Regions from separate parts of the Homo sapiens genome. Here regions 1, 2 and 3 are each linked to region 4. The links come from fine-mapping of genetic effects on gene expression. A gene starts in region 4. Each other region holds a variant in brackets. All regions are shown on one strand. Distances are from middle to middle. Region 1 overlaps ANKRD65 (ankyrin repeat domain 65). Region 2 overlaps SAMD11 (sterile alpha motif domain containing 11). Region 3 overlaps SCNN1D (sodium channel epithelial 1 subunit delta). Region 4 holds the start of CPTP (ceramide-1-phosphate transfer protein).

The links.
Region 1: its variant is fine-mapped to the expression of CPTP in whole blood (TOPMed, PIP above 0.99).
Region 2: its variant is fine-mapped to the expression of CPTP in testis (GTEx, PIP 0.92).
Region 3: its variant is fine-mapped to the expression of CPTP in whole blood (INTERVAL, PIP above 0.99).

Annotation. Positions count from the first base shown.
Region 1 is chr1:1,413,708-1,419,985 of GRCh38, forward strand. ANKRD65 (ankyrin repeat domain 65) reads right to left here. Exons shown (of 4, transcript NM_001145210.3): 4 at 4,713-5,842. The coding sequence ends at 5,393. Among named protein-coding and RNA genes, the nearest start is that of ANKRD65-AS1, 3.3 kb to the right of the region's middle. RefSeq lists enhancers at 4,542-4,621, 4,789-5,238. The variant G/C (reference allele first, on the strand shown) is at 3,451.
Region 2 is chr1:936,440-941,439 of GRCh38, forward strand. SAMD11 (sterile alpha motif domain containing 11) reads left to right here. Exons shown (of 14, transcript NM_001385641.1): 6 at 2,601-2,690; 7 at 2,836-2,973; 8 at 4,705-4,867. Among named protein-coding and RNA genes, the nearest start is that of SAMD11, 15 kb to the left of the region's middle. RefSeq lists an enhancer at 1,496-2,207 and a silencer at 1,934-1,983. The variant G/T (reference allele first, on the strand shown) is at 2,040.
Region 3 is chr1:1,285,760-1,290,759 of GRCh38, forward strand. SCNN1D (sodium channel epithelial 1 subunit delta) reads left to right here. Exons shown (of 18, transcript NM_001130413.4): 7 at 167-519; 8 at 1,009-1,216; 9 at 1,350-1,540; 10 at 1,749-1,837; 11 at 1,914-2,077; 12 at 2,180-2,278; 13 at 4,512-4,629; 14 at 4,718-4,796; 15 at 4,878-4,935. Among named protein-coding and RNA genes, the nearest start is that of SCNN1D, 7.8 kb to the left of the region's middle. RefSeq lists enhancers at 2,230-2,777, 2,778-3,324, 3,597-4,169. The variant T/C (reference allele first, on the strand shown) is at 2,505.
Region 4 is chr1:1,319,837-1,327,155 of GRCh38, forward strand. It overlaps CPTP (ceramide-1-phosphate transfer protein), which reads left to right and starts at 4,966. Exons shown (of 3, transcript NM_001029885.2): 1 at 4,966-5,266; 2 at 7,000-7,196. The coding sequence starts at 7,075. It overlaps INTS11 (integrator complex subunit 11), which reads right to left and starts at 4,824. Exons shown (of 17, transcript NM_017871.6): 1 at 4,745-4,824; 2 at 1,160-1,257; 3 at 620-693. The coding sequence starts at 4,772. RefSeq lists enhancers at 2,013-2,521, 3,285-3,794 and silencers at 4,613-4,742, 4,923-5,422.

The sequences.
Region 1 (6,278 bases), 93 kb after region 4:
AGACAACCAAGCCGCCCTACAGGATGAGTGAATCCTTTTCCTTCTCAAGCTATGCAATACTGTCCAATAATTGAGACTTTTAGAACTCAAAAATTGTCAGGGTGGTTCTTTTGGGCTGGGAATTCATCAGGAACTGGGTCTGTAGGAACTAATTCTCGGGCTTCCCATGGCCGCTGATCTCCTGTTACGGTTCCTCCGCAAACACAGCTAGAGGTGACTTGTAGAGACTGGGCTCCATGTTCGGCTAATTGCAAAAACAAAGTTTTAGTTTTTGCTGGAATCTCAGGTACTGACACATTTAGTTCATCATAGAAAGTCTGCAATATGGTTGTGGAGAGCGTTATTGAACCTCTCCTTCTATTAGGATGCTTACGCTAGGATCTAAGCCTTTTCTGTCAATGCCTAATGTTAACACTTTTTTTTATTCCACTTTGGGTCTGAAGGGTTTGTGATTATCAATTCTAAAAGGTTGTAGCTCCCACTCGTGCAGGAGGGGCTGACTTTTCCTTTTTGGAGCCAAACAGGATCTTTTTTATCTTCTTTCCAAGTAGCCCAAATGACACAAGACCAGTATTGACACATCTCACATAAATGTGATTCTTGACAGATATACTTATTTTTTTTTTACTGTGTAACTTTTTTTCCAATTTAGAGAACTGCATCCTATTCCATGCTGCTAACTATTAATAGCGGCACCAGCCTCAAATTTTAAGGTTACATTTTTGGGGACCCCTCTTTCTTCTGTTCTAGCTATTAACTTACTTGTGTCACCTAGAAAAGGACCAGTCCTGTGATCATGGGAGGCTTAAAATGGGTCATAACACGCATCAGTTTGGTTATTTCCTGGGCTGCATACCTTGGATAGAATAGCATCATACAAACAAGTTTCTTTTAGAATCCTGGTACACTTACAATAACCATAAAATAATAGGACTGTAGCAATCTTTTGTCTTACCTCAGTGACTTGATGTATATACTGGAAACAGTTCTCAGTCTGAGGAAGGTCAGTTGAAGTCCTTACTGTACAAGTCCAAATTTTAAGGAAAATGAGTCCCGCGATGAGTTTCCTCATGCTTCGGCTGTACGTGGACCAGTCAGCTTCCGGGTGTGACTGGAGCAGGGCTTGTCGTCTTCTTCAGAGTCACTTTGCAGGGGTTGGCGAAGCTGCTCCCGTCCACGTACAGCTCGAGTCTACTGATGTTTAAAGATGGTCTCGGTGGTTGGGCCCCCTAGAATAAACTGAGTCCAACACTTCTACACAGTTAAGTTTCACTGAGCTCTCTGATACTGGGAGCAAGGTGGCAGGGTTTAGGGTTTTGCAAACTTCAGTGGTTATGTGGGGATTTTCACAGAGCAAGCTTTGGTATCTAGTTAGTCTAGAATTCATTAGCTAATGATGTCCTTTGGTATTTATTAAAGTCACCACAGCATGGGGGGACTTTAGGTTTTGCCTAAGAGTTAGCTTATCTGCTTCTTGTGCTAACAGGGCCGTTGCTGCCAGGGCCCTTGGACAGGGGGGCAGCCTTTGGAAACCCCGTCTAGTTGTTTTGAGAGATAGGCCACTGGCCTTGGCCAGGGCTCTACGGTCTGGGTTAAAACTCCAACTGCTATTTTTTCTCTTTCTGACACATAGAGTGTAAAGAGTTTTGTCAGGTCAGGTAGCCTCGGGGCTGGGGCTGACATGAGTTTTTCTTTTTGACTCATGAAAAGCTCGTTGCTGTTGGTTGGAATGGATGTAGTTTATCTAATCTACATTTTTATTGACTGTCATCTACCAAAATATTGACTTAAATCCTGTAACTATTTGATTTCAAGCTTTAAATTGATCTGGTGTCCCTTGTGGGGCTCCAATTGCGTCTAAATAGATGTGAGAGTTGAAAGACCCATAAGGGGCTTCTCTCGCTTTACGATGTCTTTTTTTTTTTTTCTCCTCTGGTTGATGAAATGCCAGGGTGAAAGGGATAGCCAAACGGACTAAAGCACAAGTGCCACTCTAGTTATTCGGCAGAGTGCCCAGTACAGGTCCACCACAATACCACCACACATCCGCTCACATCCGCTCAGGGATGAACAAGGGCTGACTGATTGATAAGCTCTCGAAAATTCTTAAGCTCACTGCATCCCTTCCAGTCTCCAAGGACTGCTAAGTCTCCTCCCTGCCGTGAGAGACACGAAGGGAACTTAGTTTTGGGAGACGGAAGCTGGATGGCCCTCGGGGGCTGACCCGCAGGGACTGCAGAATGTAGCGGGGAGAGCTTGGCATGACTTGCTGCTCCAGGCTGTAGAATCCTGGAAAAGAGCTACCGTGCAGCCCACGCCTGGTCGACTGAAGGACCACCTTAGTGGAAGGGGGACAATCAGAGCCTTTGGCCTGCCATGTGCACGAGCATCACAATTGCTTTTGTTTAACATCAGATGGAATATCTGATCCATTTCAACCAGGCATTTTGCATCTTGGTATGCTGTCTTAATTGCCAAAGTTTGTTTTAAGTCTTAAACTTCCATGATCCTCTAGTAAAATGAATGTTTCCTTTAGCACCTATTTTTATTAGTTTTTAGACCAAAGAAAGCTAAACACCATTTTATATTTAATAATGCTTCTTGTATGATTTTTATACCAGATAAGCTAAATTTTACCTTTATATTAGTGTGTTATTAATGTTAAACTTAATTTTAATAAAACCTTGTAGACATATTTATCCAATTTTTCATGTTTGACCATAAGGTAAGATTTTATAGACTCTTTTTAACCTTTTATAACTTTTGTTAAAGAGCAGGTTGATGCTTTAAGAAAAACCTGTTGCATTTTTACTTTAATGTCCAGTTCACAGAAAAACTGGACGATACCTTTTTAACTTTAGTTAACATGTTTACACACAGAATTTTCTTTACAATTTACATTTTAAAACTTGCTTAAACTCTTAAAAACAATAATTTTTTTAACCTTTTAATGTAGGTAAAAATCCATATTTTTATGCCCCTTTATAATTTTTTTTACCAAAGGTATATTTTACTTTTCTTGTACACCTTGCACATAAACTTTTTTTTTTAATAGTACTCAGGGGCCAGGCGCGGTGGCTCACGCCTGTAATCCCAGCACTTTGGGGGGCCGAGGCGGGCGGATCACGCGGTCAGGAGATCGAGACCATCTTGGCTAACACGGTGAAACCCCGTCTCTACTAAAAATACAAAAAATTAGCCAGGCGTGGTGGCGGGCGCCTGTAGTCCCAGCTACTCGGGAGGCTGAGGCAGGAGAATGGCGTGAACCCGGGAGGCGGAGCTTGCAGTGAGCCGAGATCACGCCACTGCACTCCAGCCTGGGCAACAGAGTGAGACTCCGTCTCAAAAAAAAAAAAAAAAAAAATAGTACTCAGGAGGCCTTATTACTTTTAAATTATACAACATTTTTTGCATAAATTTTTTATAACATTTTGTTTTACAACTTTCGCC[G/C]ACAATTCTTCAACATATCTCAACTTTCTGCCTTATTACAAACTTTTAAACAACCAGTTAATATATTTCAGGACAAGAATTTACCGTATAACATGCTTTTCACATAAATTCAGCCTCCCCTTTTTTTTTCTTTTTTAAAGCGAACTTTTTTTATGTCTTTGGACTAGACTGTCTGAGGCCACAAGATTAAAAGTTACCATTAACATGTTACACTGTTAACTTTTAGCAAACTTCGCTTTTGTTGAAAACCTTGGAAGTTTGGGATTTCAATTATCCTTTGCTATTAATAAGACCTTGTTTAGTCTAAATTAACTTAGAATTGGTATAGATGGCCTCTTTTTCTCTCTGCTGGTCTTTCCTTGCCTCTGCCAGCCGCTTATGCTGCTGTTCTCTTAACTACCGTAGGGGGGAGGGGGTCTAAAACCTGCTCTAACTGTCCATGTACGGAAACTGGCCTGGGTGCCTTGGCTTACACGTTACCTTGTGTCATACCTTTGAAACAAGGGACCTGTCCAGGCTTCCTTCTGATGGCCAACCCACCTCTAATGCTGACAAGTCTATTTCACACAAAGTTGTAAGTTTTCCTGGTGTCAGAGTAACACCGTAATCTCCCTTAAATTCTTTCTTGAAAAATTTTTTTTAACATAGTTCCTAGTGGGGTGGGCTTATCTGTGCCTGACCCACGCTTCTTCAAGACAAAACACCACGCTCACACCACAAAACAAAAAACAGGTAAAAAGGGCACACACACACTTTTGCAGTTTACACCAAACCAAAATCAAAACCAAAATCAGAGTATCCAGAAATCCAAGCCAGGTCAAAACCAAAACCAAAGTATCACATGATCTCAGTCAAGTCAAAACCAGAACAAAGGTGCTAATGCAGGCACGCCGTGGGCGATCAGGCCACGCGTCTACTCAGGTGGAGTGGGGCAAGTTCCAAAGACTAGTCTTACCAGGTTTCAGATGTCCGGACTCCAAGTGCCAGTTCCTTCCCGGTGTTCAGCCACTGTGTTAATCCACCATGGGGGCCCGTTATGGGCTGCTCTGGCGAGGTGTTCCACCGAGGCAATTTCCTACCCGGGAGCGCTCTTTAGCTCACGTCACTCAGGCTGGCCGGAGTCCCCCGCAGGGATGCTCCACGGGGCAGGCCTAAGCCGCCTAAGGGGCTGCCTCGGTCGTCTGTCAGTTACCTCGTTTCCCAGTCAGGGAACCAAGAAATGTAGCAGGACGAGCCGCAGACAAAACCTCTCAGACACCCAGTTGTAGAAGGAAGGGCTTTATTCAGCTGGGAGCATCGGCAAGCTACTGCCTTAAAATCCGAGCTCCCCAAGTGCACAATTTCTGTCCCTTTTAAGGGCTCACAACACCGAAGATTTCACATGAAAGGGTCGTCATTGATTTGAGCAAGCAGGCGGTACGTGACAGGGGCTGCATGCACCGGCGGTCAGAGAGAAACAGAACACGGCAGGGAGTTTCACAAATGTTCTTCTATACAATGTCTGGAATCTATGAATAACATCGGTTTCTAAGTTATGAATTGATTTTCAACTACTGGGTTTAGGCCAGGCAGGCGCAGGCCTGGTTTCGGGCCTAGCGCCAGGCTGCCTGCCTGTCTTTGGTTTTACTTCCTTGTTGTTTTTTCTTAAAACAGGTACTGAGTATAAAACACTATGAGAGGGTCTCTCTTCCCTCATTGCCACAACTCATTCTTTGTTGAAGTATGGAGAAGGCTGGAGCTGCAGGGTCAGTGGGCCCTCCTGGGAGCTGGGGGCCATCCCTGGTCCAGCCAAGGCCTGTGACTGCAGCTCAAGCCACATCCCCTACTTTCTCCCATCCCCTCCTCCGGAAGCCTCTTCCCTGATGTCCCCTCCAGGCAGGCAGCCTCAGCCAGAGAGCCTGGAAATCACTGGGGCGGTGGAGCCTGGAGCCTGCTGTCTGGCTCAGCCCGTGGACTCTATGCCCTCACACTCCTTCTCCCCCCCTCCAAGTTCAGGCAGCGCCTGGGGCAGGTCCCCCTCAGGCATCTGGGCCACCTCGGCCCACTGCGTCCGCAGAGTGGGGCTGGCCCCTCGGCTCAGCAGAAGCCCCACGGTAGGCCCATGCCCTCGCTCTGCAGCCAGGTGTAGGGGGGTCTTTCGGAGCCAGCCGGTAGCATCCACCTGGGCACCCCTGTCCAGCAGGCAGCCGGCAACCTCCACGTGGCCTTCCCGAGAGGCGTGATGCAGGGGTGTGAGGCCCAGGGTGTCCCGCGCATCCACCTCGGCCCCCTGGGTGACCAGCAACTGGACGGCAAGCAGGTGTCCTCGGGCGGCAGCCCTGTGCAGCGCAGAGCGGCCATGCCTGTCCCTGATGCCTGGGTCTGCCCCGTGGCCCAGCAGCACCTCAATGTCCTAGAAGAGGAGAGAAAAGCAGGGGCCGGCCTCAGCCCGGTAGGCGAGGGGCAGAGCCACCAGGCGTTTGCCCAGCCCAGGCCTCTTCTGTCCCCGCAGCGGCCTGTCTCTCCTGACACCACTTCCTCATGTTGTGAGGCCGAACCCAAGGCTGGCCTGCTTGGAAACGTCCACTTTTCCCCCTAAGAGTCCTTAGAGCAAATCCAAGGATCTGCAGCCAACACCCTGCCCGCTGCCCAGGAACGGGGGTCTCAGGCACAGGCCCGGCGCTGGCGGAGAGTCTGTTGCTGCCACCAGCATGAAGCCGAGCCCCGGGCCTCGGATCCCGCCCTGGTCTCCACGGGACGGGGCTACACCGGAGGGGCACAGCCGGGGGCGCGCTCAGGGCCTTCGTGCCTGGACACCGTCCCCCAGCCTGGCTCCAGCTGCCCCGGTG
Region 2 (5,000 bases), 380 kb before region 4:
GCCTTCTAGGGCTCCGGGAAGGATGGGGTTCTCGGGAGGGAAGGGATCCGGCGCCTGAGGGAGGTGCTGCTGCCTGGTCACAGTTGTGGGGGGACCAGGCCCCCCTCAGAGGGCACTGCTGTAGAGAGGGGCACAGCAGAGCCTCAGCCCCAGGGCAGGCCGTGAAAGGAGGCGGGGGCGCCCCGAGGCCCTGTGGACCCCAGGCAGGGGTGTTCCCAGCAGGGCCTGCATCTCTTGGGAAGGAGGGGTGGGGGAGGCCCACCCCCATCTGTGTCCCCCATCCATGGCCCCCATCCGCGTCCTCGTGCACCTAGGAAGGCCCTTGTGGGGCTGGGTGGGGGCAGCTTCTGATGCCGCGTTGGAGACAGCTGAGAGGCGGTTGATAAAATCTAATTGCCCCATCGATCCAGCAGAGCGGAGGGAGCCCCACAATGATTGAGATATTCTGAGCCAGCAGGCCCTCCCCTGTGCCTTCACACAGGGAGACCTCCTCAGGTACACGCGTGTGCGTGTGCCGGCATGTCTGTGTCTGGGGTCCTGTGGGGTGCACGTGATGGGGGTTGCCCGGCAGCTCTCACCCATGGAGTCAGGACGTGTTCGTGCACTTCCGGGCTCACAGGCTCTACGGGGCCTCACGTGTCCTGGACCCGTGTCCAGGTCTCCCATACGCACTCCGTGTCAGGGTCTGGCCCGCTCCCCGGAGCCTCCTCTTGGAGGGGCATTCACCCTGGGGGGCGTTCACCTCTTCTCCCTTCCTGTGACCCCAGGAACCACACATCCATCCTGTTCCCAGCCCGGGCCCTCCCGCTAAGCCGCACCTCCCTGGGCCCTGGGCTGTGAGGGACTCAGAGCAGGTCCTGCATCTGCCTCTGTGAGACCCGCTGGGGTCCATGAGTGAGGAGTGAGCATGGCCTCATCGGCCTTCCTGCGGTCTCATTGCAGGCCCCCTTCCACCTGCCCCCCCCCCCACCCAGTCACCTCCCCCAGGCTAGGAGGAGGCCTTAGCCCCCCACAGAACGGAGAGGGTAGTTTCCACTGTGTACAATGGAAAAGTGATTGCCAGGAGGTGAGAGGCCTTGCTAACCCTGAGGGCATGTGCATGGTGGGCCAGGTGGCAGGTGTGGAAAAGAGCCAGGTTCCCCCAGCCTTGGCCCACCCCCTCCCAGCCCACCGAGCTCTGGCACGGGAGGCTGTGGGGGAGACGATGGCTTCTCAGGGGCCTGAGCAGTGGTGCCTGGATCCGTGTGTGGCCAGGTGCCCCCCGCCGCCCGCCGGGCCCAGCCACCCGATCTGTCACCGAGGTGGGGACCCTGGACCAGACCGTGGGACTGACCCTCTCTCTGGGGCCGGGCCTGACAGCAGCCGGGCCAGGATCAATAAGTTATTAGCACCACTCTGTCAGCTGTAATGTGGGATTGATCGGTGTGGCCGCCGCACTTCCCCAGCCTGATAAAAATGACAGATTAAGGGAATAAGAAAAAGGAATTAGGCCTGGAGCTGACGGCAGGGCTTGTGGGGGGACGGGCTTGGGAGCCCCACTGCCTAGGCCTCATGGAGGTCTTGGGTCACAGGGGAGTGGCCCCTCACTCCACCCAGCTAGAGCCCTCATGAGGATGAGGAAGGGCCAGAGTCGGAGGCACTGGCTGGCCTGGGAGACCCCCAGGGCGTGGAGTCAGGGGCTTCGGAGGAGCTCGGGGTGGGTCGGAGATGGGTACATGGATGGTGTGGTCTGGAATGGGTGCGGTCGGCAGGACCCAAGGGAGGACCTCAGGAGAGTGAGCTGGGCCTGGCCTGGGCCTCCCCTCTGCCACCTGCTGGGCTGTGTTTGGGGCTGAAGCTGGACCTGGCCTGGGCCTCCCCTCTGCCACCTGCTGGGCTGTGTTTGGGGCTAGGGCTGGGCTGGCCTCGTGGCTGAGGAGGTGGGTGAAGCTACTGGGAGGTGCACCCCAGAAGCCCAGAGCCTGGCTGGGCTGGTGGACAAGGGCATGACAGCCACGCCAGGGTGCTAGCTCAGGCAGGACTGGGCCAGAGAGGAGGAC[G/T]TGGGCCTTCTGGGGGCAGGGATGGGTATGACCAAGTAGGAGGCCTGGGAGTGGAGGCGCCTCGAGGCGGCCTGGGGGGCCCACAGCCCAGTGACTCACAGAGCAGCAAGAGGTCAGGTGTGAGGTCCTTCCCGGCTTGTCTCACCCCACGCTGGCATGTGACCCTGCACAGCCCGCCCTCACTCCTGTCCAGGAGGGGAAGGTGGTGCCTGGTCAAACCAAAAGCTTTTTATTCTCCTCTAGGGGGATGAGAGGGGGGCTCGTTAACTTGCACAAGAGGCTAGATGGCGGGTGGGGCAGCTGGGTGCCTGCTGTGGATCTCTTCTGCACACACGCACCAGGGCCAGTGTCAGAGCTCCCCTGTGCCCCTGTCCCGCCACAGCCAGGCGTGATGTCCTCTGCGCTGAAGGCTGGGGCTGCCAGGGCTGGGCAAGGCCTGTACTCACCAGGACCAAGGGCCCCCTGAGAGATGGTGGGTGCGGTCCAGGCTGAGCTGGAGCAGGGGCTGGGTTCCCCTTCCATTCCTTGAGATGCAGGTGGGCACTCACTACCCTCCCGCAGGTGACCTGTTGGGCAAGAGGCTGGGCCGCTCCCCCCGTATCAGCAGCGACTGCTTTTCAGAGAAGAGGGCACGAAGCGAATCGCCTCAAGGTAAGAGCGTGGCTGGGACGAGAGACAGGTCACCAGGGGAGGGGGCAGTCCCTGAGGGTCCCCTGGACCTCGAGCAGGCACTCTAGAGGGGCGTGGTCCTCGGCAGTGCCTGGAGAAACCTCTCACCCCGGGTCCTCCCCAGCAGAGGCGCTGCTGCTGCCGCGGGAGCTGGGGCCCAGCATGGCCCCGGAGGACCATTACCGCCGGCTTGTGTCAGCACTGAGCGAGGCCAGCACCTTTGAGGACCCTCAGCGCCTCTACCACCTGGGCCTCCCCAGCCACGGTGAGGACCCACCCTGGCATGATCCCCCTCATCACCTCCCCAGCCACGGTGAGGACCCACCCTGGCATGATCTCCCCTCATCACCTCCCCAGCCACATGTACTCGGCCATTCCTGTTGCTGAGGCCCTGCTGACACCAAGGCCAGGCTGGATGCAGGTCCCTCTGCCACACGTCCTGCCCCATGCCCCCTGGGGCGGGCCACACCTCCATGTCCCCTAGGTCCCCAGGGTCATGACTAGCTCACATTTTATATAGAGAGAAATGGAGTCTGGGGTGGACCCAGGTGAGGGTGGGCAGTGGGCATGTCAGCAGCACCCCCCGAGGAGAGCAAGCTCCTGGACCCTGTGGTCTGTGAGTCGTCTATGCAGCCAGTGGACGCCGACCTGCCAGACGCCTGCCCCAGGAGCCTGGGGAGGGGCAGTGAGCAGAAAGGCCGGGCTGGGTGCAGTGGGCACTTGGCCACCAGGACTCCCCAGGTGCTGAAGAGACGCCAGCTGGAGGGGCTGCCCCTTCCCCCGGGTCGGCCCTGACCCTGTCCACCCCACCTCAGGACGTTCTCCAGGGGTCCCTCCGGGATGCACTCGGACCCCCTGCCCGCTGCACTCAGCCTCCCAGGCCCCAGCCGCCCGCCTGGCAGGGGAGCTTGGCTTTTCGGGCTAGAGGTGGGTGGGGGCGCCGGGAAAGGAGGCAGGATTCCTCACACCAGGCACCGTCCCCCAGGGCAGCTCAGGCACCAAGAGCCTGAATAATTCACCAAATGTTAATAATGTAAAAATCCTCCTTTTTAATTGCTTTCCCTGCTCTGCCTGGGGCCGCTCTGCTGGCCGCGCGGGGGAGGGGCGCCGGCCGCCGGGGAGCGCGCTGTCAATCAGGCCGCGCCGCCGCCCCCCCCCCCCGCCCCGCCGCGGAGCCGGCCGTAAATAACCCTGTAACTAACCCGGCCGCTAGCGCGGGGGCGCTGGGCCCCGCTGGGATCGATGCGGGCGGCCGCGCCGGCTGGGCTCTGCGGGCTGGCACCCGGCCCGGGGCGGGACCCACCTCCGCTTTCGGGTAATTAATTTATAAACAGAGGCGGCGGTGGAGCTGGCGGAGCCTGCATAGTGGGGGCTGCGGGGACTCGGGAGGCCCGGGCGGGAGGGAGAGGCCGAGAGACCTGGGACGCGGCGCCTTAGACGCGGGCGCTGCGTGCGCATTGGGGCGAGTGTGGCCACGCGGGACAGTGACCCTGCGCAGCCGGGACTGGGCGACCCCTGTGCTAGTGTGGCGTGCGTGCGCGGGCGCTGCCTTGCCTTTGTGACAAGCTTTGGCCAGCCGCGTCTACTATGGGGACCTCAGATTTTCTTGCCTCCCACCGAAGAGGGGGTCCCCTGGGCGGTCAGCCCCTGGCTGGCACTTCTGGACTCTCTCGCTGCCCCGCAGGCTCTGTGGCCTCGGGACGTCTGCACAGCCCCCTCCCCGCAAGGCTCAGCCGCCTCTCAGGCCGGAAGCCTCCAGGCACCCGGCTCCCCTTCGGGGAAGAGCTTTTCCCGACACTTCCTCGCCCAGCATCTTGTCTGCCGTCTCGGCCCTGTGGCCGCCCATCCTCCTGCCCCGTGCCCGAGACCAGCCCAGGGGCCGAGCACGGCCGAGTGGTGTGGTCAGTTCCCCACCTCAGTGTTCTACGCCAGGACGCGGGCTGGGGAGGATGAGGGCGCATAGCCGGGGGGATCACTGCTGTTGTCCCCCACCCAGATCTCCTGAGGGTCCGGCAGGAGGTGGCGGCTGCAGCTCTGAGGGGCCCCAGTGGCCTGGAAGCCCACCTGCCCTCCTCCACGGCAGGTCAGCGTCGGAAGCAGGGCCTGGCTCAGCACCGGGAGGGCGCCGCCCCAGCTGCCGCCCCGTCCTTCTCGGAGAGGTACTGGGGTGGCTGCCGTTCTCTGCTTGTTTCTGGGGTGCCGCCCGCACCCCCGCGCTCTCAGCCACCAGCACGCGCCCCGAGAGTGCCAAGCACTGTGTTCAGCTCTAGGTTCGGGTCCGGGCAGAGCGTT
Region 3 (5,000 bases), 35 kb before region 4:
GTGTATCCGGGGAGAAGGGCGCAGTGTCAGAGCACCCTGGGAGGGGCTTGTCCGAGCGACCGAGCAGGTAGGGCGGGGCACTGGTGGCTGACAGACATGACAGGCCCAGGGTAGGGAGGCCTGAGTGGGTGCAGGCCGGGCCCTGCTGAGGCCACTCTGCACACAGGCTGCAGCCCAGACGCCCCCCAGGCCGGGGCCACCATCAGCACCACCACCACCACCCAAGGAGGGGCACCAGGAGGGGCTGGTGGAGCTGCCCGCCTCGTTCCGGGAGCTGCTCACCTTCTTCTGCACCAATGCCACCATCCACGGCGCCATCCGCCTGGTCTGCTCCCGCGGGAACCGCCTCAAGACGACGTCCTGGGGGCTGCTGTCCCTGGGAGCCCTGGTCGCGCTCTGCTGGCAGCTGGGGCTCCTCTTTGAGCGTCACTGGCACCGCCCGGTCCTCATGGCCGTCTCTGTGCACTCGGAGCGCAAGCTGCTCCCGCTGGTCACCCTGTGTGACGGGAACCCACGTCGGTGAGGGCCAGGGCTGTCGGCGGGAGGGGTGGCCGCCCCAGCTCCTTGCCCCTGTGACCGTCTCTAACCGAAGCCCCACTGGCCCCTGTAGCCGAGGAGGGGGCTCTGTGTGGTCAATGCCACCCTCCTGGTCACTGTGACCTCCCAAACCTCGGTGCCCAGCCCGGACCTCTCGGACTGCCAAGGAGGGGGCTCAGTGTGGTCACTGCCCCCTGGAGGGACACCAGGGCCCTCGGGAGCCTGGGAGGAGAGGTGGGGGTGGGCGAGGCTTTCCAGAAGGAGGGAAGGTGGGAGGGGCTGCGAGCGGGCTGGGCTCCGGGGCCGACCTCACCGGCAGCCACGGCCTCCAACTCCAGCTCTGGGTCCAGCTCACCCCACTGGGCGTCCCGAGTAGGGGAGGCACTGCTGTCCCGACAGCACACACTGGGATGCTGGGGCCAGTGTGAGGCCCCGGGCCGGCAACTCTGACTCCAGGGCCCTGCGTCCCAGGCCGAGTCCGGTCCTCCGCCATCTGGAGCTGCTGGACGAGTTTGCCAGGGAGAACATTGACTCCCTGTACAACGTCAACCTCAGCAAAGGCAGAGCCGCCCTCTCCGCCACTGTCCCCCGCCACGAGCCCCCCTTCCACCTGGACCGGGAGATCCGTCTGCAGAGGCTGAGCCACTCGGGCAGCCGGGTCAGAGTGGGGTTCAGACTGGTGAGTGTCCCAGCCGGGGCCTGCAGCCATCAGGGCCTTGAGCTGGGAGCACGGCCCTGCGCTGCTGGTACCTCGAGTGGGGAGCGGGGCCTGGGCTGTAGCCACAGAGCTGACCCTCCCTCCCCTCTCCCAGTGCAACAGCACGGGCGGCGACTGCTTTTACCGAGGCTACACGTCAGGCGTGGCGGCTGTCCAGGACTGGTACCACTTCCACTATGTGGATATCCTGGCCCTGCTGCCCGCGGCATGGGAGGACAGCCACGGGAGCCAGGACGGCCACTTCGTCCTCTCCTGCAGTTACGATGGCCTGGACTGCCAGGCCCGGTGAGTGTGGCGGGCGGGGGCCACTCCTTCCGTCCCACCCCACAGAGCGTGGCCGCACCCCTGGGGTCCCTCTGGCTGTATGCTGGGAGCCACCCAAGGCTGGCCGGAGGAACTTTCCGCAGACACAGGGCAGGCCATGGCCCCTCAGGCCAGCGTGACGGGCGCGGGCAGCCGACATTCAAGGTCTGAGCTTGGCTTCTCATTCCAGACAGTTCCGGACCTTCCACCACCCCACCTACGGCAGCTGCTACACGGTCGATGGCGTCTGGACAGCTCAGCGCCCCGGCATCACCCACGGTGGGTGCCAGCCCCTGGCCGGTGCGGGGGCAGGGGTGCAGGTCAGGTGGCCTCACACCAGCCCTTGGCCTCCCAGGAGTCGGCCTGGTCCTCAGGGTTGAGCAGCAGCCTCACCTCCCTCTGCTGTCCACGCTGGCCGGCATCAGGGTCATGGTTCACGGCCGTAACCACACGCCCTTCCTGGGGCACCACAGCTTCAGCGTCCGGCCAGGGACGGAGGCCACCATCAGCATCCGAGAGGTGAGCTGGCCTCTGCAGCCAACCTCCGGCCCAGGCCTCCTGCCCAACCTGGGCTTTGGGGGGTGAGGGCAGGGCCCATGGAACTGAAGCGTCCCCTCCCAGGACGAGGTGCACCGGCTCGGGAGCCCCTACGGCCACTGCACCGCCGGCGGGGAAGGCGTGGAGGTGGAGCTGCTACACAACACCTCCTACACCAGGCAGGTGAGGCTGGGCTGGCAGGGGGTGCGGGGGCAGGTGAGGCTGGGCTGGCCAGGGGGTGTGGGCGGGTGGAACGGGGGAGGGGTCTGGGAGAGTACTAGAGGGCCTGGGAACGGGGCAGTCCCCGTGGAGGCCCGCACTCCATCCCCCGTGTCCCCGCTCCATTCCCTGTGTCTCTGCTCCGTCCCGTGTCTCTGCTCCGTCCCGTGTCTCTGCTCCGTCCCGTGTC[T/C]CTGCTCCGTCCCCCGAGTCTCTGCTCCGTCCCGTGTCTGCTCCGTCCCGTGTCCCTGCTCCGTCCCGTGTCTCTGCCCCGTCCCCCGTGTCTCTGCTCCGTCCCGTGTCCCTGCTCCGTCCCGTGTCCCTGCTCCGTCCCGTGTCCCTGCTCCGTCCCGTGTCCCTGCTCCGTCCCGTGTCTCTGCTCCGTCCCCCGTGTCTCTGCTCCGTCCCGTGTCTCTGCTCCGTCCCGTGTCTCTGCCCCGTCCCGTGTCCCTGCTCCGTCCCGTGTCTCTGCTCCGTCCCCCGTGTCTCTGCTCCGTCCCCCGTGTCTCTGCTCCGTCCCGTGTCTCTGCTCCGTCCCCCGTGTCTCTGCTCCGTCCCCCGTGTCTCTGCCCCGTCCCGTGTCTCTGCTCCGTCCCGTGTCTCTGCTCCGTCCCGTGTCCCTGCTCCGTCCCCCGAGTCTCTGCTCCGTCCCGTGTCTCTGCTCCGTCCCGTGTCTCTGCTCCGTCCCGTGTCCCTGCTCCGTCCCGTGTCTCTGCTCCGTCCCCCGTGTCCCTGTTCCGTCCCCCGAGTCTCTGCTCCGTCCCGTGTCTCTGCTCCGTCCCGTGTCTCTGCTCCGTCCCGTGTCTCTGCTCCGTCCCGTGTCCCTGCTCCGTCCCGTGTCTCTGCTCCGTCCCCCGTGTCCCTGTTCCGTCCCCCGAGTCTCTGCTCCGTCCCGTGTCTCTGCTCCGTCCCGTGTCTCTGCTCCGTCCCGTGTCTCTGCTCCGTCCCGTGTCCCTGCTCCGTCCCCCGAGTCTCTGCTCCGTCCCGTGTCTCTGCTCCGTCCCCCGAGTCTCTGCTCCGTCCCCCGTGTCCCTGCTCCGTCCCGTGTCCCTGCTCCGTCCCGTGTCTCTGCCCCGTCCCGTGTCCCTGCTCCGTCCCCCGTGTCTCTGCTCCGTCCCCCGTGTCTCTGCTCCGTCCCGTGTCTCTGCTCCGTCCCCCGTGTCTCTGCTCCGTCCCGTGTCTCTGCTCCGTCCCCCGTGTCCCTGCTCCGTCCCGTGTCCCTGCCCCGTCCCGTGTCTCTGCCCCGTCCCGTGTCCCTGCTCCGTCCCCCGTGTCTCTGCTCCGTCCCCCGTGTCTCTGCTCCGTCCCGTGTCTCTGCTCCGTCCCCCGTGTCTCTGCTCCGTCCCGTGTCTCTGCTCCGTCCCCCGTGTCTCTGCTCCGTCCCGTGTCTCTGCCCCGTCCCCCGTGTCTCTGCTCCGTCCCGTGTCTCTGCTCCGTCCCCCGTGTCTGCTCCGTCCCGTGTCCCTGCTCCGTCCCGTGTCCCTGCTCCGTCCCGTGTCCCTGCTCCGTCCCGTGTCTCTGCTCCGTCCCGTGTCTCTGCTCCGTCCCGTGTCTCTGCTCCGTCCCGTGTCTCTGCTCCGTCCCGTGTCCCTGCTCCGTCCCCCGAGTCTCTGCTCCGTCCCGTGTCTCTGCTCCGTCCCGTGTCCCTGCTCCGTCCCCCGTGTCTCTGCTCCGTCCCCCGTGTCTCTGCTCCGTCCCGTGTCTCTGCTCCGTCCCCCGTGTCCCTGCTCCGTCCCGTGTCTCTGCTCCGTCCCCCGTGTCTCTGCCCCGTCCCGTGTCCGTCCCCCGAGTCTCTGCTCCGTCCCGTGTCTCTGCTCCGTCCCGTGTCTCTGCTCCGTCCCGTGTCTCTGCCCCGTCCCCCGTGTCTCTGCTCCGTCCCGTGTCTCTGCTCCGTCCCCCGTGTCTGCTCCGTCCCGTGTCCCTGCTCCGTCCCGTGTCCCTGCTCCGTCCCGTGTCTCTGCTCCGTCCCGTGTCCCTGCTCCGTCCCGTGTCTCTGCTCCGTCCCGTGTCTCTGCTCCGTCCCGTGTCTCTGCTCCGTCCCGTGTCTCTGCTCCGTCCCCCGTGTCTCTGCTCCGTCCCGTGTCTCTGCTCCGTCCCGTGTCCCTGCTCCGTCCCGTGTCCCTGCTCCGTCCCGTGTCTCTGCCCCGTCCCCCATGTCTCCGCTCCATCCCATGTCCCTGCTCATCCCCCCTGTCCCCAGGCCTGCCTGGTGTCCTGCTTCCAGCAGCTGATGGTGGAGACCTGCTCCTGTGGCTACTACCTCCACCCTCTGCCGGCGGGGGCTGAGTACTGCAGCTCTGCCCGGCACCCTGCCTGGGGTGAGTCCTGCTCGCTGCCTCCCACTCTGTCAGCCATTAGCCGGGGGGTCACAGCGAGCCTCACACATGCCTCTGACCCCTCCCCAAGGACACTGCTTCTACCGCCTCTACCAGGACCTGGAGACCCACCGGCTCCCCTGTACCTCCCGCTGCCCCAGGCCCTGCAGGTGAGACGGGGGTGTTGGGGTCGCGGCCAGGGATCATTGCCCCAGGTAGCGTGGCAGGTGACACCCGGCTGTCTCTTCCAGGGAGTCTGCATTCAAGCTCTCCACTGGGACCTCCAGGTGGCCTTCCGCCAAGTCAGCTGTGAGTCCCCAAAGTGGTGGGGTGGGGGTGTGGACAGCCAGGCAGACCCCACAGGTCCCACAGAG
Region 4 (7,319 bases):
AGTGGAGCTGCAGGTGAAGGTGGCACAGACCTGAGGGCAAGGGCAGCGCCTGGCAAGCCCCAGGAAGGCACTGGGGACCCCACCGTGTCTGAGAAGAAACCACAACCACGAGGGGCTCAGGGGCAGCTGAGGACACTGCCTCCGGAGAGGAGAAGGGGCTTCTCCAGGCTTCACGGGCCTGGCTGCTGGGGAGGACAGGGCAGGGAAGGGCAGGGGGCCAGCAGGAGTGCTGTGGCCGTCCAGACGAGGCCACCCAGACCAGCGGGTCATGAGCTGCTGAACCCTAAAGGCTGGGGTCAGGGCAGACTCGGGACTCTGGAATCGCCAACAAGACAGTGGGGTTTAAAGATCCTGAGACAGTGAAGGCATCAGAGAGGGTGAAGCCTGGAGGGCCGGGTTCAGAAAGTAGGGTTCAGAGGGCAGGGCCGGAAGAACAGACAGAGACCAGGCCATGTGTGTGACCAGTAAGGCAGGCAGGGAGCAGATCCTGGGGCCTAGAAGCCCCCTGAGGATCAAGGATGGCACAGGCCCCTTGCCAAACGCTGCCGAGACCAAGCAAGGTGGCCCAAGCCCCACAGGCACAGACATGGGACCCTCAAGGCCCCCAACAGGAACCCACCTAATGATCACACAGTCCAGGAAGTCTGTTAGGCGGCCGTTCTGGGTGATGTAGGAGAAGTCAGGGAAGCGTCGCTAGGAAGGATGTGGGGGTTTCAGGTTGCACAGTGGTCTCCAGGCAGCATCTGGGGCCACCCATGCCCCAGGGAGGGGCCCCCAGGAAGGGGGGTTCTATGTGCAGACTCAGGCTGGGCACTCCCATCCCGCAGGTGGCACCAGGACCCCTGGCTGCTCACAGCATCCGGAGGGGCCGAGGTTACCCCCAACCTCACTGACAGATGTGAGCTGGAAGCTGAGCCCAGGGTCTCACGGAGTCCAGCCTACAGGACCCCGGGGCTGGGGCTCAGCGCCAGCACAGGGGGACCCCACCATGCAGGGGCTCACCTCGGCCAGGCCCACCCATCCCTGCTCCCCACAGGGTGCAGCCATCCAAGCACAACCACTGCTGCCCACCACCCCACTGTCCCGGCTCTGAGGCCCAGGGTCCAGCTGTGGATGGCCGGCTCTCCCAGCCTCTGGGCCTCCTGCCCAAGGGACTCACGTCGTCATTGAAGCCCATGTGCATTCCACAGTCCAGCATGACATTCTTGCCCGCAATGGAGACCAGGATGCAGCTTCGGCCCACGTCCTGGCCGGCCCCTACTCGAGGGAGGGCAGATGAGTCACTGCTGCGCCCCCCGCCCCCTGTGCTGCCTCCCCAAGCTCTGCAGGACCCCAGTGCACTGAGGAAACCGGACCAAGTCTGCTGTGTGGACAGACACATGGGCCAAGAAGCAGGGCCACCCCTACTCACAGGAAGGGGGACACAGGGGACCATGCCCCACACCATCATGTCCAGGGTGGAGGCTGGCAGCCCACACGCCCTCCCCCGCCAGCTTCCCCTGGCCTCTTAAGGTGGCCACGGCCTGCTGGCTAAGTAGTGGGCACTGTGCTGTGGCCCTCAGCCTCCAACAGAGACAACGGCTGGTCTGTGGGGCCAACACCTCGGTCAGAGTCACTCCTGGGCTGTGGCTGGACCCCCAGCAGAGCTGCAAACCAATGAGGCCACCTTCTCCAGGATCTTTCCCCAGGCAGGCAAGGCAGTAAGTGACTAAGTGCTGGCACTGGGTGTTCTCTGGTGGTGCGGCTGTGGAGGGGCGCCACACAGCCTCAGCCATGCCATAGCGAACACGGTGCCAGTGGTCCAGCAGTGGCCAGCGTGGCAACACGAGCCTCACACCACTGCACACCATGCAGCCCCCAACACAGACCCTCATCTGCAGCCCTCCCACACTCCTGACAGCCAAGCAGCCCTGCCCAGCTGCTCCAGCCAGAGGCCTTGGCCAGCCAAGGCACACTCAGCCCCCTCATGTGGCCTGGGGGCCCGAGAGGAAAGGGTCACGGCCCCTGCACAGACTGTGCCTGGGCAGGAGTCTGATGGCAGTGAACAGTTTTCCCCTTGAATCCCACCCACCTCCCCCTGCCAGCCACTCGAAGTGTCCAAAGCCAGCACCACACATCAGGATGACGGGGCCACAGCCGAGGGGCTGCCTGCCACAGAGAGGGGATCTCAGGTTCTCTTCCAGGCCTGTTCCTGCCCCCGCTGGGTGTGAGCTCTCTGAGAGCAGGGTCTCAGCTGTCTCCTCCCTCTGCATCTCCTACCCCAAGCCACGCCAGGCTCACAGAGGCCCTCTGGCACCTGTGGGAAGGGAGGGCCGCCCCTCTTCATGCCCAGGGACCTAAGGCCACAGAGGCACTTGTGGCACACGGCCCCGAGGCATGGGGCCCGGGCTGGTTTTCTGAATTCCAAAGCCCAGTCCTGAAGTACTGGCAGTCCCGCCTCCCGACAGGACCCACAGTGATCCCAGGAAGGAAAGTGGAAAGGTGCGGGAATAGAGCCTGGAGATACACGAGGGGACAGGGCTCAGAAGACAGGAGGAGATATCCCTGTCAGCAAGGAGACAGACGGCAGACAAACAAGACACCCAAAGCACGCCAGACGAAGGTTACTATGACAGAAAAGAGCAAGGTGAGAGAATGAGGAAGCCTCAAAACTTCCAGAACCATGACAGGAGACTGCTCCGAGAAGCCAACTTTTGAGCAGGGGAGGGGAGGGGTAGGGTGGGGGAGGGGGAGGGACGGGGTGGGGAAGGGATGGTCCAGGGGAGGAGAAGAAGCGGGGCGGGCGGAGGGAGGACAGGCAGCAGGGAGGGACAGGCAGGGGGGAGGGAAGGGACCAGCAGGGGGAGGGACGGGCAGGGTGGGTGGGGGGACCGGCGGTGGGGAGGGATGGGCAGGGTGGGTAGGGGGACCGGCGGCGGGGGGGGTAGCCACACACAGGCCAAGGCGTGGGAGTGACCCCAAGGACACAGCAGTGGTCCAGTGAGCGCGGACACGGAGCCCGAGGCAGTCCCTGGTGCAGGGAAGCGGTGAAACAGGACTTCGGCTTTGATGATACCTTGGCTGAGGTGACCTTGAGAATATACCCAGGTACAGATTGCGGGTAATTGAAGCCACATGAAAGATCAGAAAGATCAGATGTCCAGAGAGTGGGCAGAACAGGCAGCCAAGAGGCCAAATGGGAAAGGGGCAGGCTGGGAGGACCCCACGGAGGACCCAGAGAGCAGGGGAGGGCAGTGGGGCCCATGCAAACAGCTGCAAAATGCCATGGGGTGTGCACAGGCCAGGGGTGTTCACAGCACAGTGTCCACACCGGGGCGGGGGGCACCCTCCGAGGAAGCGCTCACGCCATGGGGGAGGACATGGAATCCCGTCCTGGTGTCTGTGCTGGAAGGTGCCCTCGACCCCCTGCCCGGTGGAAGGACCAGGTTCCAGGACAGCACAGGGCAGGCACCTGTGGAAAACGCTAAGGACATCAGGATGACTGGCCACCAACACCATGTCCCTCCAGCTGTTTCTGAGACCCTGGATTTTGACTAATTTTTTCCTTCTTCACATCGTTCTATACTGTTACGACTTTGACTTTCTTTTGAGACATGGTTTTGCTGTCACCCAGGCTGGAGTGCAGTGGCACAATCATGGCTCACTGCAGCCTCAACCTCCTGGGCTCAAGCAATCCTCACAACTCAGCCTCCCAAGTAGCTTGAACCACAGGCACACACCACCACGCCCTGCCAATTTTAGCATTTTTTTTTTTTGGAGTGATGGGGTCTTGCCATGTTGGCTAGGTTGGTCTTGAACTCCTGGGCTCAAGCGATCCTCCCACCTCTGCCTTCCAAAGTGCTGTGATTGCAGGCGTGAGCCACAGTGCCCAGACTGTCAGGACTTTTAGGAGTACATATTTGCGTTTTTTGCTATTTTTTTCAGTGTTGCAGAAATCAGGTAGAACAAGAGCTAAAGTGAGAGTTGATTGTAACTCGGGCGTGAGCACACAGAGTGGTGGACAGAAAGCAAGACGTGAGGAGGCAGAAGCGGGGCTGGGGGGCTGAGGGGCTTGCGGGGTTAAGGGGCTTGGGGGCTGGGGGACTGGGGGGCTGAGGGGCTGGGGGGCTGAGGGTCTGGGGGTCTGCTGGGCTGAGGGGCTGGGGGACTGAGGGGCTGGGGGACTGAGGGTCTGCTGGGCTGAGGGTCTGGGGGACTGGAGCGCTGGGGGGCTGGGGGGCTGAGGGACTGAGGGGCTGAGGGGCTGGGAGGCTGAGAGGCTGGGGAGCTGGGGGGCTGAGGGTCTGCGGGGCTGAGGGGCTGGGGGGCTGGGGGGCTGAGGGGCTGGGGGGCTGAGGGGCTGGGAGGCTGAGAGGCTGGGGAGCTGGGGGGCTGAGGGTCTGCGGGGCTGAGGGGCTAAGGGACTGAAGGGCTGGTAGGGCTGGAGGCGGCAGCGCGCGGCACGGGGAGGTCAAGGCACCGACGAAAGCGCACAGCGAGCGCGAAGGCCCCGCGGCCCCATCTGCGACGTCCCCTCACGGCCGCCTGAACCTCGGGGCTCGCGTTCTCGCGTCACTGCCGGAGGCCCGGGGTGCAGGGACTAGGCCGCCTCTCGGCTCCCACCAGGGCCCGCGCGGGGAGGAGACCGGAGGACGCCCGCGGCGCGCACCTGGCTCCACGAGAAACGGGAGGGAGCGGGGCGCCCAGCCCGCCCGGAGCCGCATACGGAGCCCACCCCACAGCCCTCCCGGCGGCTCCCACTCACCCAAGGGCGTGACTCTGATCTCAGGCATCGTCTCCGCCGCGCTCCCGGACCCGCGAGGCCCGCCTGCGGTGATGCACTGCGCAGGCGCAACCACCTCGCTGCAACTTCCGGTGCGCTAGCCGGAAACGCGGGTCGGGGCGCCGGGCCTCCTGATTGGGCAGCATCCAACCAATCAGGGCGGCGGGCGAGGGCGGGGCGAGGGCGGGGCGGTGGGCGGGGACGGGGCCCGCACGGCGGCTACGGCCTAGGTGAGCGGCTCGGACTCGGCGGCCGCACCTGCCCAACCCAACCCGCACGGTCCGGAAGTCGCCGAGGGGCCGGGAGCGGGAGGGGACGTCGTCCTAGAGGGCCGGAGCGGGCGGGCGGCCGAGGACCCGGCTCCCGCGCAGGACGGAGCCGTGGCTCAGGTCGGCCCCTCCCCAACACCACCCCGGGCCTCCGCCCCTTCCTGGGCCTCTCGGTGGAGCAGGGACCCGAACCGGTGCCCATCCAGTCCGGTGCCATCTGAAGCCCCCTTCCCAGGTGAGACTCGTAGCGCTCGCTCGACAGGGTCTGGTCCCACCCACAAGGCCTGGGGCGCCGTGGGGCCCCGTCTCCTGCTGGCCCCCCAGCCTGCTGTCAGCCCCCGTGCTCTGTGCTCAGGCCGCCCTCGCGCCCGGCCCTGACCTTGGGCCGTTGGGCTGCCCTGGGAAAGGCCTGGAGGTGTCCTGGGTCACCTTCCTGGGCTGGCAAGCTGCCTGCCTCCTGCACAGCCACTGCCCTTCCTGTTGTTACCGAGCCACCAGCCACAGCTCTGAGAAGCTCCTGGCAGCTTCTGTTTGCCACTGGCTCGAATCTGGGCAGGAAGGCAAGGCCCGCAGAATATCTGGTGACCAAGAAGGAAACCCCAGAGCCTCAGAGACCATCTTCTCAGTGGACAAAATTAAGGCCCGAGGAGGGGAGGGGCGTGCTGGAAGTCTATGGGACTGCATCTTTCTGAGGCCCAGGAGCAGCCATCCCCCACACCTGAAGCCCGGTGAGCTCACATCTGGGGCCTCCGCCTGGTGCCAAGCATGCAACCCAACCTGTGGGGCCTGCAACGCCAGGCTTCAGCACCCTGCAGGCACCAGTGCTCCAGCAGCCTGGGCCACGGGCTGGGCAGGGCTTGCAGCCCATGATCCCTAGTGATGAAGGGCCCAGTCCTAGGGTGCTGAGCAACCTGCCCACCTGCTCCTGGCCAGGAGCTCTCACCACGGCTGGGTGCCCTTCCCCCTCCCCCACCGATGGAGTCCCTGCAGCCAGGGAGGCCAGGACAGGGCTCCCAGCACCAACCGGCCTAGGAACCCCCAGGCCCTCTTCCTGGTCGAGGTGGAATGCAGCTGACTCTCAGGTTCCCCAGAGCAGGTGCGGGCCCGTGGGGCACCCGGGGAGACAGGGCAAGGGTGCTTGGCAACACTCACACAAAGCATGGGTGCCTGGATGTCTGTGGATCTGTGGAGTGACTATGTGAATGCCAGCAGAATCCAAAGCAGGGCCTGGGCCACTCGTGGAAGGCTCCCTAGGGCTAGTACAAGAGCCTCGTGGCAATCTTCTGAGTGGTAAAACCCATCTGTGTGGGACATGGAGTTTCAGCAACAGGAGTGAAAACACGTGTCCATCCATCCAGCAAGTGCCAGCCCTACAGCCTCTTTTCTGCTTTTGGGGATGTAGCAGTGAGGAAGATGGGGCAGCCTGCCCGGCAGCATCCCCCCACCCCCGGCCCCACCTGTCTCTGCTTTCTGCTGTGTCTGTTTTCTTGTCTAGGACTTCAGAACTTCCTGTCTTTGTTGTCATCTGACCCCACCCCAGATGGCTGCTCGCACTCCCCATGCACCCAGATAGATGGCTAGGATGGTGCTTGGCTCTCGGCAGGGGCTTAGTATTTCTCCAGCTGGTAAAAGCAGATACAGCATCTAGAGAGAGAAACAAAAACAAGAAAGCACCAGCAGAGACACCTGCTGCAGACAGCGGGGCCTAGTGGTCTGATAAAGCCAGAGGGGGCCACTCTCGGGGTCAGGGACTGACACGGAGTCAGTGGCCTGATCCACAGGAGGGGCTGTGCCAAGGTCCCTGAATGCGCAATCCTGATGAAGGGTGGGTCAGGGTGGTGTGCCTGAGAGCCTGCGGCTTGGCTGGGAGCAGAGCCAGGCAGCTCCTGGGAGGAAGCTCCATGAGGGGCATGAGTGTTCAGTGAGCGGCAATGGGATCGCAGCTATTTTGTTCCCCTCCACACACAGAAAATGAGCCACAGAGCAAGCTGACCCCAGCGACACAGCCCCCCAGCCCTACTGTATTTCCGTTCCTATCAAAAAATGGATGACTCGGAGACAGGTTTCAATCTGAAAGTCGTCCTGGTCAGTTTCAAGCAGTGTCTCGATGAGAAGGAAGAGGTCTTGCTGGACCCCTACATTGCCAGCTGGAAGGGCCTGGTCAGGTGCGTGTGCCAGGGCTGCCTCCTGAGGTGGGCGCTCCCCTGGCCCGAGTCCCATATGTGGCATCTGCCTCCCGACTGCCTGTCCCCACCAGCTTTGCTGCCCGTTTCCAGATGGGTGTGAGC